7 linked regions of the Homo sapiens genome follow. The protein of the gene in region 7 interacts with the protein of the main gene of each other region in a pairwise test. Each region holds a gene or a part of one and is shown on either strand. Other genes may lie near its edges. The genes, in order: IGFN1, MOS, TTC23, GFAP, RHPN1, ZNF250 and GOLGA2.

Region 1 (4,058 bases), on a different chromosome or scaffold from region 7:
AAAAATTAGCCAGGCATGGTGGCAGGCACCTGTAATCCTAGCTACTCAGGAGGCTGAGGTGGGAGAATCACTTGAACCTGGGAGGTGGAGGTTGCAGTGAGCTGAGATCGCGTCACTGTACTCCAGCCTGGGCAACAGAGTGAGATTCTGTCTCAAAAAAAGCCAACAACAATAAAAATAAAATAAAATAAAATAAGGAGAAAAAAAACAACAACAAGATGGGCAAGTTCCCAGAAATCTCTGATCCCTACCACTTCTCTCCTCTCTGTCCTGGTAAGGATCGCCAGGGAGGGCTGGGGAGGGGAGATTAGTTCTTCTCTTACCTGCCATAGTTCTGCCTCCTCTTTGACTCCTCTGAGGGTAGAAGTTCTATTACCCTGAGAACAGAAATGGAATTGCTTTTGAGAAATCCAGGCTGGTCTCACCCCACCCCTCCCACACCATCAGTGCATCAGCCAATGTCTGGGGTGGGAGCTGGAAAAAGCTGCTGCCCCCAAGAGCTTTTCTAACCCACTAATGGCACTGATTAGTTTCCTGCAATTCCCTGTCCCCAGCAAAACCAATTTCCCAGAGACCAGGGAGTGGGTAGCATGCTACCCAGTTGGTAACATTCCCAGGTAAAGGGAACCATAAGCTGAGCCTGCACACTGTGCTGGTGGCCTGGCCTCCTGGTGGGACCCCAGACCTGATTACCCTGCCCAGAACATGAGACACAACCCTCCCAAACCTGAGGAAATCAGACCCATTCAGGATCCTTTCAGCTGTGTAAGGATTCAGCTGTGAAAGGATTTCAGCTGTGAAAGGATTCAGGCTCCTTTCAGCTTGCCCCATTGGCTTTGGAATGGGAATTCTCCAAGGACATTCTTTGGGCCTCCTGGCTCTTCCCCCAACTCTGAGATTTTCTGGCAGGACACTGAAGCCCTCTACTTCCCACGCTCCACCAATCTAGAATCCTTCCAGTCACAAGGTCTGCAGGGGAGAGGCCTCAAATTTGCTGCTCTTAAGCTCTTCTTGGCCCAGGCCTGTAGGATCCCCATAAATCCATCTGCTCCCCTCAGAAGCCAGTGAATTATAGTGTCAGGTGAATAGGAGTATTTTCCATTCTCTCACCACCACCATCTCTCCTGATTTCCTCTTAATTGCATCCATCTGTTATGGCCAATGGGGAGTCCCACACAGGAGAGGAAGGGGGTTGGGTCTGGGGTGGGATGAGAGCCATAAATCAGGGAGGGGGGATGTCTTGAAAGAATCTTCCAGCAGTCCCACCCTCTGTGCGATTGGCCCATGGCCAAGCGGTTCCATTTTGGGGACTCCATTTTCTGCCCAAAGAGCCTTATCATTAATATAGAATCACACATGACAGAGCAAATTCCTCTCTCCCATGGAGATCATTCCATTTCGCAACGGCCACCCACTGGCACTTCTGACCCCTGGCAGCCCCTCGCCAGCCCAGCCGCTGCACCCTAGCGTGCTGGAATGCCATGGTACGCCAACTGCGTTCTGGAGTGGTCACGGGTGCCACAGGCACTACGCCGAAGGGAGTCACGAGGAAGGGTGGGAGGGAAGGCAGCCACCAACGGATGAGGACCCAGCTGGACACGGCCAGGGGGAGGGCTGCAAGGGCCCCCATCCCACCCACCCCTCAGTGCAGCCTCCTGGTAGATGCAAGTGCACTGGTGCCAGTCGGTGACCCCCACACTGGAGTAGTTTGAGTTCAACACAGCTATCTGAGTCATCATCCCCATCGTCACCCACATCATCACCACGAGCAGCTATCATCCTGTTACTCAGCTATTGGTCACACATGAAGAAGGATGACGCTGATACCACTCTTCTCCCTCCAGCCTCCTGCCTACAGCTCCCAGCAGAGGAGGGCAAAAGAAGCAAAGCTCTTGGGGGAACTTAGGGATGTGACGTTAAGCATCCACTTCTGGAGCTCCACTCTCTTTTAGAATAAGCCAGATTTGGTACAAAGTCAATGACACAGGGAAAGAGATCTGTTGGATTGGAGACTAGAGGGATGTAGTCTCAGTTGGAAGGGATGAGAAAGGAAATGAATTCTCTCCTCCATAATTCATTCCCACATTTGAGAAGAACTCCAGTTCTTCCCAGAAGGAAACAGCAGTTTGTGTCCTCACTTCAGCTGTCCCAACAACACTCTCAGCACTGGATCCTGGGACAGTCCCTCCCTGCCCCCTCTCCAGGACCTATGGCTCCCCATCCTTTTTCCCTACCCTCCCCGGATCCATCCTGCACATCCAGGTCCCTGCTACCTCCAGTTGGTCCCTGCTACCTCTCAACTGGTAGAAATTGAGGCAGGAAGAGCCAAATGGAGTTCTCTCAACTGCTTTGACCATGATACTAACCAAAATATAACAAGTCCCAGCCCGAGGTCCTTATTCTGGACTGCTAGTGATATTTTTAATCTGGTCATCGTATCACACCCAAAGTCAAGCCGTGTCCAGAAAATTAGAGCCAGGACAGAAATGCCCAGACAGGACACACTGAAATTCTCTCCTCCAGATATCCTGGAGTAACCTAGAGGGGATACAGGTGCACCCCAGCGTGTGATCCGCCAGCCAGGGAATGTTCCCCAGGCAGACATCCTGCCCACTGCCTGCCCCTTCCTGCGTAGAAAAGCTGGACAGCAGGCTAGTGTCTCCATCCTGGCCCTACCCTGGCCCGGGTGGGCAGCCAGGTGTGAGCACCCACTTACCTGGGTGTACAGCTGACCTCCCGCTTCCTGTCTGCTCCCTCTTCCCCGTTTCCAGCTGCTGCTTGCTGAGGCTCTGGATTGACTGGTAGTGGACAGGCAGGGCTGGAGCAGGTGTCGGTTGCTGCAGGCGCCTCTGCTCCCTCTGCCCCTCCCACTCACCCCGCCTCCTCCTTCTCCTCCAGTCCAGGCTTGGCAGGGCAAGGCCCCCAGGGCTAACATTCTAGCTCAGAGGAGGTCAGAGATGGAAGGGTCCTGTGACATCAGTCCATCCAACTCCTCGCTTTGCAGAGCTTTAAGCTCTTAACCAGACTGGCTTAGTGTAAATTTGCCCCATGAAGCCTCATTTATACGACCCTTTTTAGCAAGGACATTTTCATCATCCAAACCCTTAACTTTTCAGCTAAGCTGGTCCCTTGGGACCTTTGACACCATAAGTCACACAGATACATAAGCCACTGCCCTCTTGGGAATCACACCTCCAAGTGGTATCAAACAGGCAGCAAACTTTGGGAGTGGGAGGGAAGGCAGCCATTAACGGAGTCACAGACACAGAGTCCACCGAGAGTGACCAGGAAGGAGGAGACCCTGGGAACTGTGTAGTCAGCAGGCCTGCTGGAGAAGGTGAGCTTGCTCAGGAGCTTTTCAAGGAACAGAAGGGGTGACCTGACCAGCAGGGTTGGGGGCGAAGTCGGCAGGGCAGATGGTTGGGTTTTTGGTCGGACAGATGGATGGCAAGTGGAAATTGGAAATACAATGGCTGGTAACAGATTTTCTTAAGGAGAGTGGAGGGCAGGTGAGGCCCAGGAGATAAGGCCACCTGGTGTGCTTTGAAAGAGCCACCTTCTCTCTCCTTAAGGACAGAGAACTGCTTTGTTGCCACCCATAAGCGAGGCTTGATTGAGGATTCAGGTGAAGTAGAAGGGAAATGGGGTGAATGTTTGCATCCAGGGGAGGACACTGAATATTTACATGTGTTGATTAGCATCTTGCCAATTTCTACAGGCGCTACCTCTGGATGTGCTCCGAGAGGGGAGGTGTTTGACCTCTTCTGCGCAAGTACGTGTATGTGTGTGCATGCATGCACACACACATACATTTGTGTGTCCTCCCTGTGTGTTTCTGAGTGTCAGGGCTGGTCTTTCATTTGTTCAACAAACATGTGTTGAACACCTACCGTGGGTTGAGCCCTGGCTCTGGCACTGTGTTAAGCCCTAGGAATACAAAGGTAAGCAAGTGACAGGGCCCTCCCATCATGAAGTTCACAGTCTAATGGGGCAGGTAGATGTAGGGGCTCCAAAGGAGACAATGGAGAGTGTGAGGGGAGGGCTGGACCTTGGAGAGC
Region 2 (2,677 bases), on a different chromosome or scaffold from region 7:
ATGTACCTCAGTGTATGACTTTTATGAGTGAAGGTCATTACAAACAAGAAGTTTTACTGGGGGGAGTAGTAGGAAAGCATTACTTATTTTTTTAAAAGTTTTTACTGATTTGGTGTGGGAGCAACTACACCATTAATAGTTGGAATTTATGTGGTAGGTATGGGATATATATGGATTTATAGAAAATTTTGACATTTCTGCAGTGGAGTTCTATTTTGGACAAACTTTTATCAATAACAAATTTAAATAAATGAAATACTAGCAATGGAAAGCAAAGCACATGACTATATGAATAAGATTAGTTACTAACAGTACTGAGACAACAGGTACTAGACTTGTAGCTTTGCTAATGTGTCCTAGAAAAAGCACTGGAGACTAAAGGAGTTTTTAGTAACTTTATTTTCTAAAACTCCATCCTACAAATATGTTTTCTTCGACATCTCCACTTCCTTTAAAAACAAATAGAATCAGACAAAAACTTATCTTGACCAGGTTTTCAGTCAGCCGAGTTCAGCTTTCAAAGAGGTGAGATCCACCAAAAGCAGCCGCGCGCTCGGCCTCTGCGCCGCGCTGGGTCTCCAGCAGCGCTGGATGACGTCCCCAAGGCGCTGCCCGGGGAGCGAGTCCTCGAAGACGGCAGCGGAGAGGGACGGGCGCAGGTCGTAGGCCACCACCGCGTACAGTATGTGCTGCCGCTCCCCCGAATACGGCGCCTGCTTGGTAGTCATTTGCCAGAGAGTGATGGCAAAGGAATAAATGTCGGCTTTAGGCGTCACGCCCTCTCCTTTCAGGAGCTCCGGGGCGCGGTGGGTGTATGTGCCTCCTAGAGGGTAAGAGGGTGTCTGGAAGCACAGCAGATCTTCCAACTTCTCAGAGCAACCGAAGTCACTAATTTTACAGACATCCTGCTCACTGATCAAGATGTTCGCGGGCTTCAGGTCCAAGTGCACAATGCTTTGCGAGTGGAGGAAGAGCAGGCCGTTCACAACATCTAGTGAGTACTTGAGACACTTTCCCAAACTTAACTGTCCTCCAGTGCGGCAGTGAGGCTCCCCTGCGTCCCCCTCAGGGTGGCCGGCGGCGCCATAGATGACTTGGTGTAAAGTGACGTTGCCACCGAACTCCATGATGATGGTCCCTAGGCTATTGGACCCTGCGGGCGTGCGCGTGCTGGCAGCCACCACGCGCACGATGTTATCGTGGCGCAGCCTTGCTACGTTGAGCTCAGCCCAGAAACTCCGCCGAGATGCTAGTCGGTTCTTGGTGCACTTGTTCACTTGCTTTATGGCCACAGGAACACCGCGGTAAGTCGCCTTGTACACCGAGCCAAACCCTCCAGCTCCCAGCCTCTGCAGCAAGCACACCTGCTCCCAGTCAATGGAGCACCAGGCCAGCCGGCGCGGCAGCCGCGGGGCCCGAGGAAGAGTGGCCCCCAGAAGCAGCTTCGCAGGTAGCTCTGAGGGACTGCTGCAGGGCCGCGCGTCCACCGATGGGGAAAACTCGCTCCGGAGGTAGGGGCGTAGGGCCAGGGGCGAGGGCATCGCACTTTGCAGGGGGACACCAGGGCCGCTGGAGTGAATGAAGAGACTAGGGGAAACCGCGGGACTTTGGAAACATGACTGACTACTCCTTCGCTCCACCTCATCCCTTTTCTCCTTTTCCTTCACTTGTTCCAAATGAGCTACATCTGTGCTGTCACTCAGCAAGAGTTTTTATCAGATGGAGGGAGAAACCGGAATGAAGCACAGCTATCCCTTTCAGATGAAAGCATTTCCCTTCCACACTTGAAGTGAATTCTTATAAAAACAAGCTCATGCCAGACAAACAGCATGGAGCTGCCTCAGAACTCACCCCTCTTTTACATTATTTCTTAAATTATAATAAAATACGTTTTTTTCAAGTCTCATCCGCTGCACATTATCAGTCCTCAGACTAAAGAGACCACAAAGCACAATGAAATTGTTTCACACTTTGCAGGCTGTAATGATTGTTAGTGTCATTCTCCAGCTGCATTAAATCACTTCCAGCAGGTATTGGCTAAGAGTTAAAATGCAAACAGCAGACATTTGTTTAACCAATTACAGGGAAAAACTAGGTGCAACATTCATATGGATAAAAAATTGCAACCTTAATCAATCCAAATAGAATCACTGATACAGGTCATAACACACACCTAAATTCATCAGTGGAAAGGAGAATCCCCTGACACTCTATGCAGCTTACACAGCAAATTAGCAAGACATCTTAGCAACATACTGACTTCCTAACAATCCTTCCCTTCCAAGGCGATTTGGCCCAACCGGTCAGCTCACTTGCAAGAGAGATTCTAGACTTCGTAGCAAATGAGTTACCGAAGTTTTGAACCAGAGTTGGGGGAGACAAAAGAATAGAAATGATTCAGAGCTGTGATCAGGGCTTCAAATAATAACACATATGGGAGAATTGTAGAAGAGGAAAAATCTGAAGAAATAAAAATGGCACAAAATCACTGGTACCTACATATAATGTAGAAAACCAGAAGTTGGAATGAAATTCAGGGTATTGGCCATCAGACAATAAGATCTTTCTTTCTGATTTTTATAATGAAAATTAATTTTCTACCAAGTGCAGTGAGTTATGCCTATAATACCAGTGCTTTGGGAGGCTAAGGTGGAAGGGCCACTTGAGGCCAAGAATT
Region 3 (3,500 bases), on a different chromosome or scaffold from region 7:
TTTGCTAAAATCTTCGAGGGCAGCTTAGGAGAGTGAGGTGCATCTTTTGATCAACACTGATCTGGGTGACTTGGGCAAGGGCAGTGAGGCATAGCATCAGTGACACTGAGCATTGGCTGACTCAGCAAGACACTATGGTGGGAAGCCAGGCAGTACAGGGGAACTGATGCATGGCCCACAGGAGTCAGAACAGTCAGCTGGCCTGTGGCCAAACATGCATCCACCTCTCTGCTCATCACTCCTCACCACAGGCAAGAGGGTCTCTGCTTTCACAGGTTCGGTCTAGTTGCAAGATAGATGTTAAATATCCACATGAATATATACTTACAAATATTTGATGACATCAAATGGATTCTCTAAGGAAGAATAATGGGGAGTATCTAATGAAGCCTGGGGAGAGGAATCAGAGAAGCTGGTAAGAAATGAAGAATGGGTTAGCATTGGCCTGGAGATGAATGAGGAAGGGCCTTCCAGGAGGAGGAAACAGAAGCTGGCACTGCCCGGAAGTGGGAATTAGAAAAGGCCAGTGTGGCAGGAACATGGATCAGGGAGAGGAGGCAAAAATGAGCCTGGAAATGTCAGTGGAGTCCAGGTCGTGGACGGTACTGTGGGCCATGTCAGGATTCTGGTTTATCCTGAGGGCATCGGGGAGCCAGTGGACTGGCTTTTACAAGTGAGTGTTCAGTGGTCAGATCTGCTTTTTGGAAACATCACCATGGCTTCCTTATTCTGAGTGGATTAGAAGAGGGCAAGCATGGAAAAAGCAGCTGAGAGATAGGAACTTGTTAGAGCGGTCCAGGCAAGAGATGATGAGTGGCAGGACTAAAGATGGAAAACAATGGATGCATTCAAGATCTATTTTGGAGGAAAAAATGGCTGAGGAACTAGATGGAGTGGGGCATGAGGGGGCAAACCTACCCCATTATTCTGACCTGAGCACTCCCCTTGTCTTCTAGAGATGTGAGGGGGGAATGGGGAGGGAGTCTGAGGCCCCTGGAAGGCCCCTCTCTCTCCCTGGGGTTGGGTGACTGAGAAACATCCTGAAACTCCAATTTGTCCTGGTGATTGTGGCCCTACTTTGGCCTGAGAAACATAGGTATATCGGCATAAAAGCCCGTGTTCCCTAGCTGACAGAAGGCGGGGGTGGAGGGGGGATTAAGGATGAGAAAAGAGCTGTGGGGGAGGAGGTCTACAGACGGTAAGGGAAATAAAGTTTTTCATTTCCAAGATTTGCCATGATAGGTTAGAGTTGAAAAAAATACATAGTCAGCCCTCCATATCCATAGATCAAAAATTATATGGGAAAAAACAATAAAAATAACAATACAACAATAAAAACAATACAAATAAAAAATACAGTGTAACAACTACTACCATAGCATTTACATTGTATTAGGTATTATAAGCAATCTAGAGATGATATAAAGTATTCAGGAGGCTTTGTCTAGGTTATATACAAATGTGACACCATTTTGTACAAGGGCTTGAGCATCCTTGGAGTTTGATATCCTTGGGGGCTCTGGAACCAATCCCCCACAGATACTGAGGAACAACTATATATATATGTGTGTGAGTGTGTATATATGTATGTATGTATGGTTTTCTAGGAAATTGAGATGGCGTTAACCTCTGATAAGAAAAGCTTAACAGAGGCCGGGCGCAGTGGCTCACGCCTGTAATCCCAGCACTTTGGGAGGCTGAGGCGGGCGGATCACGGGGTCAGGAGTTCAAGATCAGCCTAGCCAAATGGTGAAACCCCAACTCTACTAAAAATACAAAAAAATTAGCTGGGCATGGTGGCGGGGGCCTGTAATCCCAGCTACTCGGGGGGCTGAGGCAGAAAATTGCTTGAACCCAGGAGGCGGAGGTTGCAGTGAGCTGAGATTGCACCACTGCACTCCAGCTTGGGTGACAGAGCAAGACTCTGTCTCAAAAAAAAAAAAAAAAAAACTTAACGGAGAGGAGTGAAAAGTAAACAGGACTTAGGTGCGCTGAGAAGAGGGTGTGGGCATACATGCACACATACATATATACATATATATGCACACACATATATATAATTGTTCCTATCTGTGGGCGATTGTATATATATATATGTATTAATATGTACACACACACACATATATAAAAACATAAAGCAATGGTATGTTAGGCTTTGCAGGGAATGCATTCCCAAGGGTTTAATTCCCAATGAATATAAGGTCTGGGTCTTGCTCTATTTTCATAAGCCACGTAAATCACGCTTGTACGAATCAATACTAAACAACTGAGCTGTAACTTCTGCACCGTATAGTTTTCCTTAGACATGCAAACTCCATTCATTACCCAAACTGAGGAGAGAGGGATTAGACACACTAACTGCCACACTATTCCAGCCAGATCTGCAGGACTTCAATAAGCAGGGCCTGTCCACTATTTCTTTAGGATCTTTTGTAGGTGGGCATGACAATCTATATTCTCATAAAGTCTCCCAGCTTCTAAGAGCAAGTATCTCTGGAAGCTGCCCCAAAGGAGCCCTAGCCTTATTTATGTGTCCCTCTAGAGACTGGCACATGCTTTGCACACAGTAGATGCTTAATGGATGCTTGCAGAGTAAAGGAGTTGCCCTTTGGATATCAACTGTGAATAACTAGACAATTGTGATCCAAACTCACTTACCTCTTTTTGTCCAGTCATTTGTAGAAAATGGCAAAATTCATCTTGAATTGAAAGAAATTTGGTTCTTCCCATCCCTTCAGAATCCTTAAGATGAGCCATGCTCTCTTGAAAATACTGCTCAGCTACATCTGAAGAAAAGCATTTATCATAACTTTGAAAACTGCTCACAGATTTGAAATGGAAACAGAATAAATATACTGTTAGCAGTGTTGAGCTATTTGGAAAGAGGTATTGGGACAAGAAAAAACAGTTAAGACTGTCCTTTGCCCATTAATCTGCCTGTTTCATTAGAAAGGATTTAGGTCTTGAAGGATACCGTAATTTACTTTCTTTAATTTTCATACATCTAGCTTTCCCGGTGATACATAAAGAAAAGTTACTGCAAAAGAAGAAACTATGCCCCACATCTGAACACACTGGTAAGTTTTCAGGTTGATCAACCACTAATTCTTCCTATAACTTTAGTTATAGGGTAACTATGACTTTACTGAGGGTAGGACTCTGAAAGTTCACTTATTTTGATGGATTTGGAGTATAATCTTGGTACATATTTCTAAAACATGAAAAATCTGGAAAATATTGCTGACATGCCGCTGAGGGAAGAAATCATTCAAAACCCCAATCATTCCAAATACTTCAACATACTGGTTATAATATAACACAAATATTTTTAAATGCATGCCAATCTTGAATGCAAGAAAAAGAAAACCTCAGGTATGGAAAATGACGAGAGAACTAAAAGCCAGAGAAGTGAGCGGGAGCTGAGGTTGAATGGCCCGTAAGCATATTAGAAAAAAGGTCCATCTACTAGTACTGGGGTTTTCTAAGCCTGAGCAGGACTA
Region 4 (3,500 bases), on a different chromosome or scaffold from region 7:
TGCGGGTGGAATTTGGTGAGGGCATGGGCCCCAGAGATGATCAGTAATAAGAAATGAGTTGGTCTTGTCAAAGGCTACATCTTGGCCCCAGTCCCGCCCTCTCATGAACAGATCAGAGTCCACTCTGGGGAAGGGCGCAGCATTTGTCTTTATTTTTCCTCAGCGACTAAAGGCAGCAGCAGTGCCCTGAAGATTAGCAGCAGCAGCAGCAGCAGGTGGCAGGAAGGAGTGGAGGGAAAGGACACCAAGTCTTGGGGAGAGGGAAGGACCCTTCTTCGGCCTTAGAGGGGAGAGGAGAACCCTGAAGTGGGCCCTCCCAGTCCCATCTCTGGGCACAGATCCCACCAGTCTGCTCACCAGTCTGCTCAGTCAAAGCAGAGTGGGTGCACTGGGGTGGACGTGTCAGCCCTGAGCACCCGGCCTCCAGGCTGCAGGAATATGAGCCAGTGTCTTCACTTTGCTCGTGCCTCAGTTTTACAATTGTAAAATAGGGCACTACCTAGAATACTGGGTACATTTTGTGTGTGAGTAAGAAGGGACCGCAAGAGGCCCTTGGCTTAGGGAAAAGCAGCCGGTCACTATGGGGTGGAGAGGGTCAGACGTGTGGCAGTGGCTTACTGGGGTTAAGAAGCAGCAGTCCCAGGGGCTCAGAGGCTGGGGCGGCCTGGTATGACACAGCAAGGAAGAGGCCTTTAGAAATGGGACAAAGTCATGCCCTGCCCCCATGGATACATCCCCTTTCTCTCCTGTTTCAGCATCTTCAAGAGGATGAGTCACTTCCTTAATTCCCACAATCCAGAGGCCAAGTGCAACTGGTCACCCACAACCCCTACTTGTATGCCTAGCGCCATCCCAATTGCCTCCTCCTCCATCTCTACCAGCGTCCCCTCCAGTCTGCACGGGGCAGTCCTCCTGGGCTTGACCTCTCTGTACCCACAGCTGGGGGCCAGGCAGCCCCCCTCTATCCCTCCCAGCACCTCATCCCTCTCCACGTACACAACAGATCCCCCAAGTGCTGAGAATCAAGCTCCCACCTGCCCACAGCGTGCCCACAGATGGCATCCCTGGATGGCAGCTCAGGTGGACTGAGACACTTGAGTCATCGCTCAGGAGGTCCTTCTGGGATCTGGGCAGGTGACTGCCCCAGGTGGCAGGACGTCCCCACCCATCTTAGACTGATCAGGGTCAGTCTAGGAGAACAACCCTCTGAGCTGGGCATGGTGGCTCCAATCTATAATCCCAGCTACACAGGAGGCTGAGGTGGGTAGACTGCTTGAGCCCAGGAGTTCAAGGTCAGCCTAGGCAGCATAGGGATATCCCACCTCATAAAAACCAAAAGACAAAACAAGCCTCTGGCCAGGGCTACCTTGTCTGTGGGGCCTTCCCTTTCCTGTCTGAGTCTCAGTTTTCCTCCAGCAGCCTGAGGAAACTCAAAGGCACAGTTCCCAGATACTCCGAGAGAACCTCCATCTCTGGCAACAGTTTCCATAACAACAGGAATCAGGGATGTGGAGGGCGATGTAGTAGGTGCCCCCCGCCCTCCTCCCCTTCTCTCCTTCCTCCTCATTCTAACGCAAGCTGCTGGCCATGCCCCTCCAGACTGCCCCTTGGGGGTGAGTTTCTTGTTAGTTGGAGTTGCTGGGTGCTGGGTGGGTGCCGTCTGGCAGGCCTGATACTGACGGAGCCTAGGGCAGCAAGCTGACCTAGGGACAGAGGAGGGAGGGGAGCAGCTGGGGTGGTGGGGAGCTCAGGTCTGGGGAAATGTGCCAGCAGAGGCGGAGCAACTATCCTGCTTCTGCTCGGGCCCCTCATGAGACGGGGCAGAGGCCACCAGGTGGGTCCTGCCTCACATCACATCCTTGTGCTCCTGCTTGGACTCCTTAATGACCTGCAGGGGACAGGGAACGTGCACAGTGCAACAGTTAGGAGTTCACACAGACCCCAGGTCCACCACCACGAGGCTGTGTAACCTTGGGAAGTCCCCGACTTCCCAGGTCTTACTTTTCTTGATAGTAACCACAGCTGCCTTGCGTGGTGGACAGAGGGGGTGGTGAGATAACACTGGGAAAGCATTTAGCGTCATGCCTGGCGAGTGGTAAGCTGCTGGAGTAAGATGAGCTCCCACTGTGGTTGGAGTGGCGTGGCGGATACGCCAAATCCCCTCTTCCCATTCCCCTGGTAGTTTCCTTTTACCAAGCTGGAAATGGAAAGCCCTCCCCATCCCCAACTGTGTCTGCTAGAGTTGGAAGTGAAAGCTACTAACTTTAATTCTCTTTCTCTCCCTGGCAAGCAAGGCCCCCGAGTTTGAGGGTGAGAAAGAGAGAGTGTGTATTAGGATCCCATCTAGTGGCTTTGGTACCAAGGCTCCCCTTAGAACAGCCTATGGAGGGACTGAGGAAACGGAATTACATTCAGTTTCCTTGCTCTCCTCCAGAATTCCCTGGGGAGCTACTGGGAGTTGCTGGGAACCTTCTATGTGCCAGCCCCAGGCTTTCCTCCATGGCCTGGCCTTGAGAATCCCTGGGGCCAGCCAGAGCCTGACTGGGCCCAAATCCCTCCTTACCTCTCCATCCCGCATCTCCACGGTCTTCACCACGATGTTCCTCTTGAGGTGGCCTTCTGACACAGACTTGGTGTCCAGGCTGGTTTCTGCAGATGTGGGGAGAGGAGGCCTCTCATGGACTTTCAGGGCATGAGCCATCCTCTCCCATGCCCGGCTTCCCCATCGCACCCCCCTCCCCATCATGAGTATGAGAACCTATGCAACCGAGCAGAGAGAGCCTAGGCTCTTCCAAACGGGCTGGAGAGCCCCCAAATCCCAATAGTGCTGCTGCCAGAGTCCTGGCTGCTCTGTCTTCTGGCCTGGCTTCATTTCAGCCCCTCTGCAAGCCCTGGCCTGGCACCTGGCTTTCTGAAAACCCAGCACGGTATTGAAATCAGGAGACCAGGAGGGGTGCGGTGGCTCACACCTATAATGCCATCATTTTGGGAGGCTGAGGCAGGTGGATCACCTGACGCCAGGAGTTCGAGACCAGCCTGGCCAACATAGTGAAACCTCTACTAAAAATACAAAAAATAGGCCAGGCATGGTGGCTCACACCTGTAATCCCAGCACTTTGGGAGGCCGAGGCAGGTGGATCGCCTGAGGTCAGGAGTTTGAGACCAGCCTGACTAATATGGTGAAACCCTGTCTCTACTAAAAATACAAAAATTAGTCAGGCATGGTGACAGGTGCCTGTAGTCCCAGCTACTCAGGAGGCTGAGAGAGGAGAATCACTTGAACCTGGGAGGCGGAGGTTGCAGTAAGCTGCGATCGTGCCACTGCACTCCAGCCTGAGCAACAGAGTAAGACTCCGTCGAAAGCAGGCAAGCAAGCAAGCAAGCAAGCAGGAAAGAGAAAGGAAGGAAGGAAGGAAGGAAGGAAGAAAGAAAGAAAGAAAGAAAAAGAAAGATTAGCCAGGTGTGGTGGCTCGCACCTGTAATCCCCTTACTCGGGAGTC
Region 5 (3,500 bases), on a different chromosome or scaffold from region 7:
TGGCCAGAGCAGGACAGGAGGCAGTCAATGCAGAAGGACGTGGTCGGTGGGGTAAGCTGCTGACTCGTGATGGGGGTCAGCGGGGGAGGCTGGCACCTGCCAAGGACACCAGAAGCCAGGGTCTCACCAGGCAGCCTGGACAAGTAGGGGCTCCGGGAGCCCTGCAGGAGGCGGCCCACTGCTCCTCACAGCCTTCCTTCTGCGCTTCTGGATTTCATTCTGGATCCCCCCCTTGCCCCTCCCAATTTTTTTCCCATCCAACTCACCCACGCCTCCAAATCATTCCCATGTGGGTTTAGGCGTGGGCTCAAAGGACAGGGTCCCTGAGGCTCTGGGGGCGGCCACTGGCCCCCGATGGTTGGTGCAGAGGCTGCGGTCTGACTTTGGGAATGGTTCTCGAAGCGAACGCACACCCGTGCCCTCCCTATCCACAGAGAAATGACTCTGAGCCTTGCACCCAGACTGCAGCCCCGCGGCCCTGCCCAGCACCAGCCATGGCGAAAGAGTGGGGCGTGCCCAGCGGGGCCCCTTCTGGACTTTGATGGCTCCTGTGTCGTCAGTGGTGCCAGCGTGCTGGAGCTTACATTTCACTCTAGGGAGATCCAGTTTCATGCCTCAGCCCACCCCACCCTTGTGGTGTTGGGGTCCTGCCCACATGATCCTCACGTGTCCCTCCCTCTCACCATGGCCTCCCAACCCCCACTCTTCCCCGTGGCCATGTGGGAATGCCTGGGTCTCCACCCGGACAAGATTATTTGCAGCTACCTGTGGCTGTCCCCTGGGTGGGCTCCCAGGCGTGGGCTGGCTGGCTTGCCTCTCCAGCACCCACTCCTTCCATGCTTTGAGACCCACAGTGCTGCTCAGGGCTCACTGCTCAGGGACACTGACTCCCACCCAGCCCTGGGGCGAGCCTGGTCTGAGTCAGGCGTGGCCAACCTGGCCATTTCTGCCAGTCAGCAGCAAGACAAGGCCTCTGGTGGCTCCTGGGACTGCTTCCCGCCCTTGTCGGGAGACAGGACCTCTTCTTCCCCAGGACCTTGTGGCGTCTGAAGGTGAATCTTGCCACCATGAAACTGACCTACCACTGCATGAAGCTGCGGATTCATGGGGCCAACGTGCACACGCACTGGGTCTTCCCCTCTGTGGACCCGACACCCTCTCCACGCACACACGTCTCTCAGGCCTTCCCGTCTTCCCCGTAAAGAGCTCACACGTGTTTTCCTGGGTTTTCTCCTAGATATCTGGAGAGAGTTCTTTTTGCTAATGTGAACGAGATCTTTGTGTGCATTTTAATTAGTTTATTCCCATTATACAAGAAAGGTTTGATTTCCTAGACAGAAGGCCTGCTCGTCCAGCCCCCCAAAATCACAGCAGCCAGCTGAGCGGGTGACCATCTATTATGGGTGAATTGTGTCCCCACAAAAGACAGGTTCAAGTCCTGACTCCCAGTACCTGTGACTGCAATTTTTCTAGAAATAGGGTCTTTGCAGATATAATGAGTTAAGATGAGGCCACCCTGGAGTAGGGGGTCCTTAATCGCAGTGACAAGGGTCCTTATACGAGGTGGGGAATTTGAACACAGTCACATGGAGGTGGCCATGGGAAGGCAGAGACAGAGACTGGAGGATGAGGCACCGTCCCCTGGAACCCACGCCATCCCCCAAATCCCCGCCCCGTCCCCTGGAACCCGCGCCATCCCCAAACCCCCACACCGTCCCCTGGAACCCACACCATCCCCCAAATCCCCGCCCCGTCCCCTGGAACCCGCGCCATCCCCAAACCCCCACACCGTCCCCTGGAACCCACGCCATCCCCCAAATCCCCGCCCCGTCCCCTGGAACCCACACCATCCCCCAAGCCCCCGCCCCGTCCCCTGGAACCCGCGCCATCCCCAAACCCCCACACCGTCCCCTGGAACCCGCGCCATCCCCAAACCCCCACACCGTCCCCTGGAACCCACGCCATCCCCAAACCCCCACACCGTCCCCTGGAACCCACACCATCCCCCAAGCCCCCGCCCCGTCCCCTGGAACCCGCGCCATCCCCAAACCCCCACACCGTCCCCTGGAACCCACGCCATCCCCAAACCCCCACACCATCCCCTGGAACCCGCGCCATCCCCAAACCCCCACACCGTCCCCTGGAACCCACACCATCCCCCAAGCCCCCGCACCATCCCCTGGAACCCACGCCATCCCCCAAGCCCCTGCACCATCCCCTGGAACCCACGCCATCCCCAAACCCCCACACCGTCCCCTGGAACCCACACCATCCCCCAAGCCCCCGCACCGTCCCCTGGAACCCACGCCATCCCCAAACCCCCGCACCGTCCCCTGGAACCCACGCCATCCCCAAACCCCCACACCATCCCCTGGAACCCGCGCCATCCCCAAACCCCCACACCGTCCCCTGGAACCCGCGCCATCCCCAAACCCCCACACCGTCCCCTGGAACCCACACCATCCCCCAAGCCCCTGCACCATCCCCTGGAACCCACGCCATCCCCCAAACCCCCGCATTGTCCCCCAGACACCTGTGCCATCCCCCAAACCCCTGCGCCATCTGCTGGACACCCACGCCATCCCCCAGACACCTGTACCATCCCCCAAACCCCTGTACTGTCTGCTGGACACCCGCACCATCCCCTGGACACCCAGGCCGGCAGCCTCCTGCTGAGTGCTGGGGTGAGGGAGCCTGACGGAGGTCCCTGAACTGAAGATGAGTTGGCGCTTAGGGGCCGGAGGGAGGGACACAGGCGGCCGGAGGGATGGACACAGGCAGCTGGAGGGAGGGACACAGGCAGCCGGAAGGAGGGTGTGCCGGCCCAGGACCCTGGCCTCCCCCAGCCCAGCCCTGCCCCCGTGGACACCACCCAGCAGCGGACGGGCCGATGTGCACTTGGGAACCCTCACCCTGCTCCCGTTTCTCACTCCCGCCTCCTCCAGAAAAGAAATTCCCTCCAGAGCTGCTTCAGGGACTCGGGCTGGAGAGGCCCACAGGTGGGAGAGGGGCATGGGCGCCTCAGATCTGAGAAGCTCCCTGAACCTGAGGCCCGCCCACCCCCGCCTCCCATCCCTACCTTTCCCACCGGCGCTACCACCTCGAGGGCCTCTGCCCAGTACCTAGGAGACCCCCGTGCCACCCACCGCAGCTACACCCCCTCCCCGCAAAGGCCCCGCTGCAAGGCTCCAGCAGCTTTAAGGGCTCTGGCTGTGCGACGGGCATCAGACACCCAGCCAGGTCCCTGCTCCCCTCCTGGCCCCAGGAGAGCTGCGGGGAGCCTGGCCCCTTGGAGCCCCACAGGCACCTGCTGTGGGCCTGGTCCATTCCTCGGCCTCCCTACCCGCAGTGCTCCCTGCAGGCCAAGTGACTTCCCGGCCTACAGGCGGAGGAGCAGACCCGAGCCGGACCTTTGAGGCTGGGTAGACCTTGGAGGTGGGCGGCCCATGCCCCACTTTCCACACTGGGTTGAAGGTTGAGCCCAGTGGAAGGGGCATAGA
Region 6 (3,500 bases), on a different chromosome or scaffold from region 7:
ATGTTGGCCAGGATGGCCTCAAACTCCTGACTTCGTGATCTACCCACCTCGGCCTCCCAAAGTGCTGGGATTACAGGCAGGAGCCACGGCGCCCGGTCCTGAATTCTTTTCAAATGTTTTTTTAAATCATGAAGCATGCTTCTGTGAAGATTCTCCTATGTTTCCTGGTGCTTACACACAAATGTCCTTGCTGTATACATATGCAAGAGTGGGAAGTGGTGAACATAGGAATTCATGTTTTCGATTTTTTTTTTCATTTTTTTTACCTCCATTCTCTCAGAATGTGATCATGTTTTCAATTTCATTGGATAATGCCAAACTTTTCCAAAGTGGCTATGTGAATTTACATCCCTATTAGCTGCCCTGCATCCTCACCCACATGTTATATTGTCAGATCTTTCCATTTTTTCCATTCTGAAGGTGTAACATCATGTCACAGTGGTTTTGATTTCCACTTTACTGATGAATAATGAGGCTGAGCAGTTTTCTTATTTATTGGCCCTTTGGTTTTCCTAATCTATGCAGAAATTTGTGCCTACTTTTCTTTTTGGGTAATTCTGCGTCTTTTTATTCTATTCAGAGGAATTTATTAAGTGTATTGACAAATTGAAACAGTGAGAATTTAACAGTTTTTTTAATAAAAAAATTTAAATTCACTGTCTTCAGTTTAATACAATTTTTTTGAGACAGAGTTTCGTTCTTGTTGCCCAGGCTGGAGTGCAATGGCACGATCTCAGCTCACCGCAACCTCTGCCTCCCAGGTTCAAGCGATTCTCCTGCCTCAGCCTCCCAAGTAGCTGGGATTACAGGCATGTGCCACCATGCCCAGATAATTTTTTGTATTTTTAGTAGAGATGGGGTTTCACCATGTTGGCCAGCTTGGTTTCAAACTCCTGACCTCAGGTGGTCCATCTGCCTCGGCCTCCCAAAGTGCTGAGATTACAGGCATGAGCCACCACCCCCGGCCCAGTTTAATACAATTTTTAACATATCTCATTTTAGAAAGTCACTCTATGTGGGTTTTTTTTTGAGACAGGGTCTCACTCTATCACCCAGGCTGGAGTGCAGTGGTGTGATCATGGCTTACTGCAACCTCAACCTCCTGGGCTCAAGGAATCCTCCTGTCTCAGCCTCCATGTGGCTGGGATTACAGGAATGCACCATCATGTCTGGCTAATTTTTAATTTTATTTTGTAGTGTGGGGTCTCAGTATCTTGCCTAAGCTGGCTATGTGTTTTTTAAACTGATAGAAGTTTTAGTTCTTTCTTTTTTTAATGTATAAGCCTCATCTTCATGGAATAAAAGCCTATAGGCTAAAGAAATAGTTACTCATTTACACTGAAAAGTATTACTTCTATTGTCTGAAGTTTCACCCGGTGTGGTGGCTCATGTCTGTAATCCCAGCACTTCGGGAGGGCAAGGTGGGAGGATCACTTGAGGCCAGGAGTTTGAGACCAGCTTGCGCAACATGGTGAAACCCCGTCTCTACAAAAATTAGCTGGGCATGGTGGTGTACACCTGTGGTTATAGCTACTCTCGGGAAGCTGTTGTGGGAGGATTGCTTGAGTCCAGGAGGTTGAGACTGGTGAGCCGTGATTATGCCACTGCACTCCAGCCTGGGCAACAGAGTGAGAGCCTGTCTAAAAAAAAAAAAAAAAAGTTTCCTGAATGGGCGGCTTCTGACCTGATGCCAGGGTAACAAGATAGACAAGATGTCTTTAATAATAAAAACACAGGCCAGGCACAGTGGCTCATGCCGGTAATCCCAGCATGTTGGGAGGCTGAGGCAGGAGGATTGCTTGAGCCCAGGAGTTTGAGACCAGCTTGGGCAACACAGCAAGACTCTGTCTCTACACTGCACTCCAGCCTGAAAAAAAGAAAACACACACACACACTAAACTAACTGCATAAGAGACTACTCGCTCAATCATCCATGGCACGAAAGCATCATATGACTGCTTGTGAGACAGAATCAAGTTGCTGTGAAGGCCAAACTTGCCTGCACCTTGCATCCATACTGTGCAGAAGCTGGACTTCAGCCAAGAGTCACTTGCTTTTAGAATAATGGTTTTGGTTGTTAAGTATAAAGTAGGGAAGTATGTTTTAAGCATGACGGAACAAATAAAAGGAAACAAAATGATTTCACCGAAATAAATGTTTAATTATAAAAACCCAGTAATCTCTCTAGGCCTACTATGGCTCACAAGAAAAGGAAAAATGTTTTAAAAATTAAAAACACAAAAAGCCCCTCCCTGGTGTTTTGTAGCAATTGTGTGAGTTGTTTAACACGCTTCATAGCACCGAGTCGCCTCTACATTCTTGTAAAACATTAGTGTTAACACCTTCAGAGATTGTACTGAATTAAAAAGATCAGGCATACACTTACCCCATGGACAAGATAAACTGTCTTGTTGTGTACAGGCTGTAGTGTGGTCATATTTGAGGTTGTCTGGAAAAAAAACAGCGAGTTGAAGTGACAACAAAATACTCCCTTCAAGAGTGGAAAATCCTGGCCGGGCATGGTGGCTCACGTCTGTAATCCCAGCACTTTGGGAGGCCAAGGTGAGTGGATCACTTGAGGTCAGAAGTTTGAGACCAGCCTGGCCAACATATAGTGAAACCCCGTCTCTACTAAAAAATACAAAAATTAGCTGGACATGGTGGTGCATGCCTGTAGTCCCCACTACTAGGGAAGCTGAGGCAGGAGAATCGCTTGAACCCCGGAGACAAGAAGTTGCAGTGAGCCGAGATCACACTACTGCACTCCAGCCTGGGGGACAGAGTGAAACTCCGTCTCTCAAAAAAAAAAAAAAAAAAAAAAAAAAAAGAGTGGAAAATCCTTTCGTTGCTATTACAACATGTAATTTACTGAGTTACAAACAGCAGGGTCAGGGCTGGGCAGGTGCACACACTTATCCATCCTGAGGAACTGCCAGGACAAGACAAAGGCATATCTACTCCTCGCTTGCTCTGATGCTAGTGGCAGTGATCCAGGTTGTGGCAGGTGGCTTCTGTTTCTATGCACATCAGTAATCTAAAACTCAGTCCCATCGTCCTCTGTGGCCTGTGTTAGAGGTGAGGGGACCAGGTGCTTCCATGAAAAAACTTCTCATCTCCAACCAGCCATGCTCCCAGAGAATTTCACAGTCTCTGTGGTGTCAAATCAAAGGGCGCTCAAAGGCAGTTTAAGCTCTCCATCAGGCGAGTACATAGCTGGACACAAGGGAGCCCAGGACTGGTTTGGCAGTGGCAGCAAAATGCCCTCCTGTGTTTTCTTGTCTCCTACAGCTGCAGTCAGTAAGCAGAAGTTCTATGCAAGATTTCCAAGACATGATGATGTGTCTTCTTGTATAGTCACTGGAAAATTAAATTCCTCTAAGGCTGGCATGTACCTTGTTCCTCTGAGGATATCTGATTTTGCAGGCCAGTAAGAGGTAGACTGTAATACCTGGTGCCCTATCCACATAAAGCTACTTTAGAAATAAGGAGGAGCTTTCAAG
Region 7 (3,500 bases):
GCCATGGTATTGATCTCCTCCACTCTTCTTATTTCATTTCCCTGAACCCACATCTTCCTCCTTCCCTGACTTTCTTGCCTCTCTCTAAGCCACTTCTACCTTTCTCCCCCTGCCCTTGTTTTTCCCTTTTCGCCTCCTGTAGATTCAGGACATTCTGAAGGTGCTGGTGTCCGACCTTAACCGTTCCAATGGGGTAGCGCTCCCCCCATTGGACAAGTGGAAGGTGAGGCAGTGCCGAGACCCCTCTCTGGCTTGCTCTCTCCAGCTGTGCATGCCCCTGAGGCTTCTCTGGTTTGGGGGATACTTTGCCTCTGGCTTATTTTATGTTGCTGCCATTAACCTTCCGCCTGTTTATGTCCGCTTCTTCACCTGCTTGATTGATTGGGTTTTTATTCTTCCCCCAAATCTTTTATCATCTTGGAGAAGGTGAGACATATCTTAAAGTTTAAAAGTTTAAAGGTAATTTGGGAATAACTTTTAGAGCAGGTGTGTGGGATTTGGGGCTTTTTTTTTTCTTCTTTTTTTTTCAGAGACGGAGTCTCACTGCCCAGGCTGGAGTGCAGTGGCACAATCTTGGCTCACTGCAACCTCTGCCTCCTGGGTTCAAGTGTTTCTCCTGCCTCAGCCTCCTGAGTAGCTGGGATTACAGGTGCCTGCCACCATGTCTGGCTCATTTTTGTATTTTTAGTAGAGATGGGGTTTCACCATGTTGGCCAGGCTGGTCTTGAACTCCTGACCTCAAGTGGTCCACCCACCTTGGCCTCCCAAAGTGCTGGGATTACAGGCGTGAGCCACTGCTCCCAGTCTGGGATTCTGGGATTTGGGCTTTTGAATGCCCAGTGTGGGTACTCTCAGACTAGGAGAGATGAAAAAAAAAAAACACAAAAAAACCAACAGACCTTTAGGTTTTACCCTAAAGGCAAAGATCAGTAAACCACCTAGAAGTTAGTGTTTTTTTTTTTTTTTTAAATTAATTCACTTTGGTTTAAGAGTAGGGAACAAAGGGTTAAAAGAAAATGAGTTCACATTATAGTTGGAAGGATTGAAGCTATTTTTTCAGAGGAACTAACTGTAAAAGTTGTGAGGTTAACCAAACAGATGAGTGACCAAGACGTTCTGCCCCTAATCTCTCCAAATGGACATTTAGCCATATTCATTGGGCTCTTGACAACAAAGGCACTTTGATAAATAAACAGTGGATAAAATAGATGAACAAGGTAGGCTGCACACCGAGGGAGGCAGACTCCTCTGAAGGAGGCAAGAGAGAATTTTGGAACATTCCAAATGCTCAGCTCGGGGGGAGGTTGGTTCCAAATGGACTCCAGGCTGGAGAAGGTGGCATTTGAAGCTGGCTTGAAGATTAAAGGTGGGTAACATTAATCCATATGGGGAGTGGGGGAGGCAGGGGGAGCGGTGAGGCCGTGGCCAGAGTGTGAACTCACAGAGCACCTTTCAGGAACACAGGGAGCCTGGTGGGGGGCAGGGCATGGAGGTACACAGGGCTGGGAGACAACCTCCTCTGGCTGTGATTTGGCATTTCTTCCATCTCTAACTCACCTGGGGGACTCCTTCCTGCCAAGCCAGAGGAGCAGGGCACGAATAGAGCCTGATCCTGTTGGAGATGGGTATGGGGAGAGGGACTGAGACAGAGCAGCCTTGGCTGCTGTTAGAGAGTTGTCCAGTCTCATACCTGTTACCCTCCAGTTGATCAGGTCTGTCCAGGTGCTGTGACTCACCTTGCCAGCTCAGAGGAGACGCTGAGTGGTACGGCTGGGGAGCACAGGCTTAGAGGTGACCTGCAGCCAAAAGCATTTGGCTTTTGCTCTGCCAATGGTCCAGTGGATTAGGGGGTCTTCAGCCTGTTTCCTAATGCTCTGAGATTCTGTGCCAGCCCAGGTCCCTCTATTCTGGAAACAAAGGCCTAGATCCCCGTATTTCCTTCTTGCTGTTTTGTTTTTGTTTTTGAGAAAGAGTCTTGCTCTTTCTCCTGGAGTGCAGTGGTGTGATCTTGGCTCACTGCAACCTCCCCCTCCCGGGTTCAAGTGATTTTCATGCCTCAGCCTCCCAAGTAGCTGGGATTACAGATGTTGCACCATCACGCCCGGCCATTTTTTTTGTATTTTTAATAGAGATGGGGTCTTGCCATGTTGCTCAGGCTGGTTTCGAACTCCTGGCCTCAAGTGATTCACCTGCCTTGGCCTCCCAAAGTGCTGAGATTACATGTGTGAGCCACCATGCCCAGCCCCTTGCTGTTTTTATACCTTCTCTATATCCGTAACTGTTTCCAATGTAGGTTTTGTTTTTTTTTAATTTCTCATTTTTATTACCATGTAAGTTTTCTACTCCAGGAATGCAGGCCTGTGATCGTAGTATCCTGAGCGGAGCTGATAACATTTCCAGAAGTAGGGAATAATGGAGAGAGAAAAAATATCTTAATGGGATGGGACATTTTGAGGAGAGTAGGCTTTTTTAAAAACTCCATCTTGGCTACAAGACTTAAAATAATGAAATAACTTGGTTGCTCACAAAATAATCATGCTATGTGTGTCAGAAAGTCCTCAGAAAAATGCTTTTTCAGCCAAGTGCAGTAGCTCATGCCTGTAATCCCAGCACTTTGGGAGACTGAGGAGGGTGGATCACCTGAGGTCAGGAGTTCGAGAGCAGCCTGGCCAACATGGTGAAACCCCATCTCTACTAAAAATACAAAAATTAGCTGGGCGTGGTAGCGTGCACCTATAATCCCAGCTGCTTGGGAGGCTGAAGCAGGAGAATCTCGAACTCAGGAGGCGGAGGTTGCAGTGAGTGGAGATCTCGCCACTACACTCCAGCCTGGGCGACAGAGTGAGACTCCCATCTCAAAAAAAAAAAAAAAAAAAAATTCCCTTCCTCTGAGCATTCTTGTGTCTAATCCTAGAGATCAGTGGGAACCGAAGATGCCAGGAGGGCCCTAAAGCCTAGCAGGGTCCATTGCTAGGAGTGCCAGCCTTCCCTCAAGGCTAATGCCTGGCCAGCAACTGAACCCTTGCTCTGACCTATTAGATTCAGTTGTAGGCATTGTCAAGGAAACACCAGGTTCCATGGTCACAGTAAACTTGCAAAGATGCAAAGGCAGCTTGGCTCATCTTCAGTTCCACCAGCCTCTGCAGCACTTGCTCTAAGGAGGGAAGCAGATTTGGGTTTTCAGAAGCCAGGGCTGAAGGGTCCAGTGAGCGCGCAGTCCTTTCCCTGGAGAGAGGTGTAGTCACTTCTCCCAGACCCAGCTTCCGTGGCCAGGCCCTGGCTCCCTGGTGTTTTTCTCTTGTCCAGCTTAGCTGGTCAGCCAGCTTTTTCCACTGTCTGCCCATCTGGCTTGTCAGATATTAGAAGATCTCTAGAACCAGAGGCTTGGGCGAAGAGTAAGGTCAGAGCCTGGAGAGAGGCTGGGTGGGGCTCTGATCAAGCAGGTAGGTCCAGTTGGGGGCAAGGGAGAGGCTCCACATGACCCCAAGTTCTGAATCCTA

What was found.
Region 1: the proteins of GOLGA2 (region 7) and IGFN1 interact in binary tests that used the Homo sapiens proteins (3 or more experiments, as listed by UniProt).
Region 2: the proteins of GOLGA2 (region 7) and MOS interact in binary tests that used the Homo sapiens proteins (3 or more experiments, as listed by UniProt).
Region 3: the proteins of GOLGA2 (region 7) and TTC23 interact in binary tests that used the Homo sapiens proteins (3 or more experiments, as listed by UniProt).
Region 4: the proteins of GOLGA2 (region 7) and GFAP interact in binary tests that used the Homo sapiens proteins (3 or more experiments, as listed by UniProt).
Region 5: the proteins of GOLGA2 (region 7) and RHPN1 interact in binary tests that used the Homo sapiens proteins (3 or more experiments, as listed by UniProt).
Region 6: the proteins of GOLGA2 (region 7) and ZNF250 interact in binary tests that used the Homo sapiens proteins (3 or more experiments, as listed by UniProt).

The regions. Positions count from the first base shown.
Region 1 is NC_000001.11:201,189,566-201,193,623, reverse strand, and holds the start of IGFN1 (immunoglobulin-like and fibronectin type III domain-containing protein 1), read right to left. Parts: upstream 2,801-4,058; 5' UTR 2,717-2,800; intron 378-2,716; 5' UTR 331-377; coding exon 324-330; intron 1-323.
Region 2 is NC_000008.11:56,112,442-56,115,118, forward strand, and holds MOS (proto-oncogene serine/threonine-protein kinase mos), read right to left. Parts: upstream 1,542-2,677; coding exon 501-1,541; downstream 1-500.
Region 3 is NC_000015.10:99,159,082-99,162,581, forward strand, and holds part of TTC23 (tetratricopeptide repeat protein 23), read right to left. Parts: intron 2,787-3,500; coding exon 2,659-2,786; intron 1-2,658. UniProt on the Homo sapiens protein: Participates positively in the ciliary Hedgehog (Hh) signaling.
Region 4 is NC_000017.11:44,905,501-44,909,000, forward strand, and holds part of GFAP (glial fibrillary acidic protein), read right to left. Parts: intron 2,650-3,500; coding exon 2,564-2,649; intron 1,889-2,563; coding exon 1,847-1,888; 3' UTR 1-1,846.
Region 5 is NC_000008.11:143,371,876-143,375,375, reverse strand, and holds part of RHPN1 (rhophilin-1), read right to left. Parts: intron 1,645-3,500; exon of another isoform or gene 1,242-1,644; coding exon of another isoform or gene 1,083-1,241; exon of another isoform or gene 1,079-1,082; intron 1-1,078. UniProt on the Homo sapiens protein: Has no enzymatic activity. May serve as a target for Rho, and interact with some cytoskeletal component upon Rho binding or relay a Rho signal to other molecules.
Region 6 is NC_000008.11:144,884,454-144,887,953, forward strand, and holds part of ZNF250 (zinc finger protein 250), read right to left. Parts: intron 2,450-3,500; coding exon 2,387-2,449; intron 1-2,386. UniProt on the Homo sapiens protein: May be involved in transcriptional regulation.
Region 7 is NC_000009.12:128,269,508-128,273,007, reverse strand, and holds part of GOLGA2 (golgin subfamily A member 2), read left to right. Parts: intron 1-142; coding exon 143-223; intron 224-3,500. UniProt on the Homo sapiens protein: Peripheral membrane component of the cis-Golgi stack that acts as a membrane skeleton that maintains the structure of the Golgi apparatus, and as a vesicle thether that facilitates vesicle fusion to the Golgi membrane.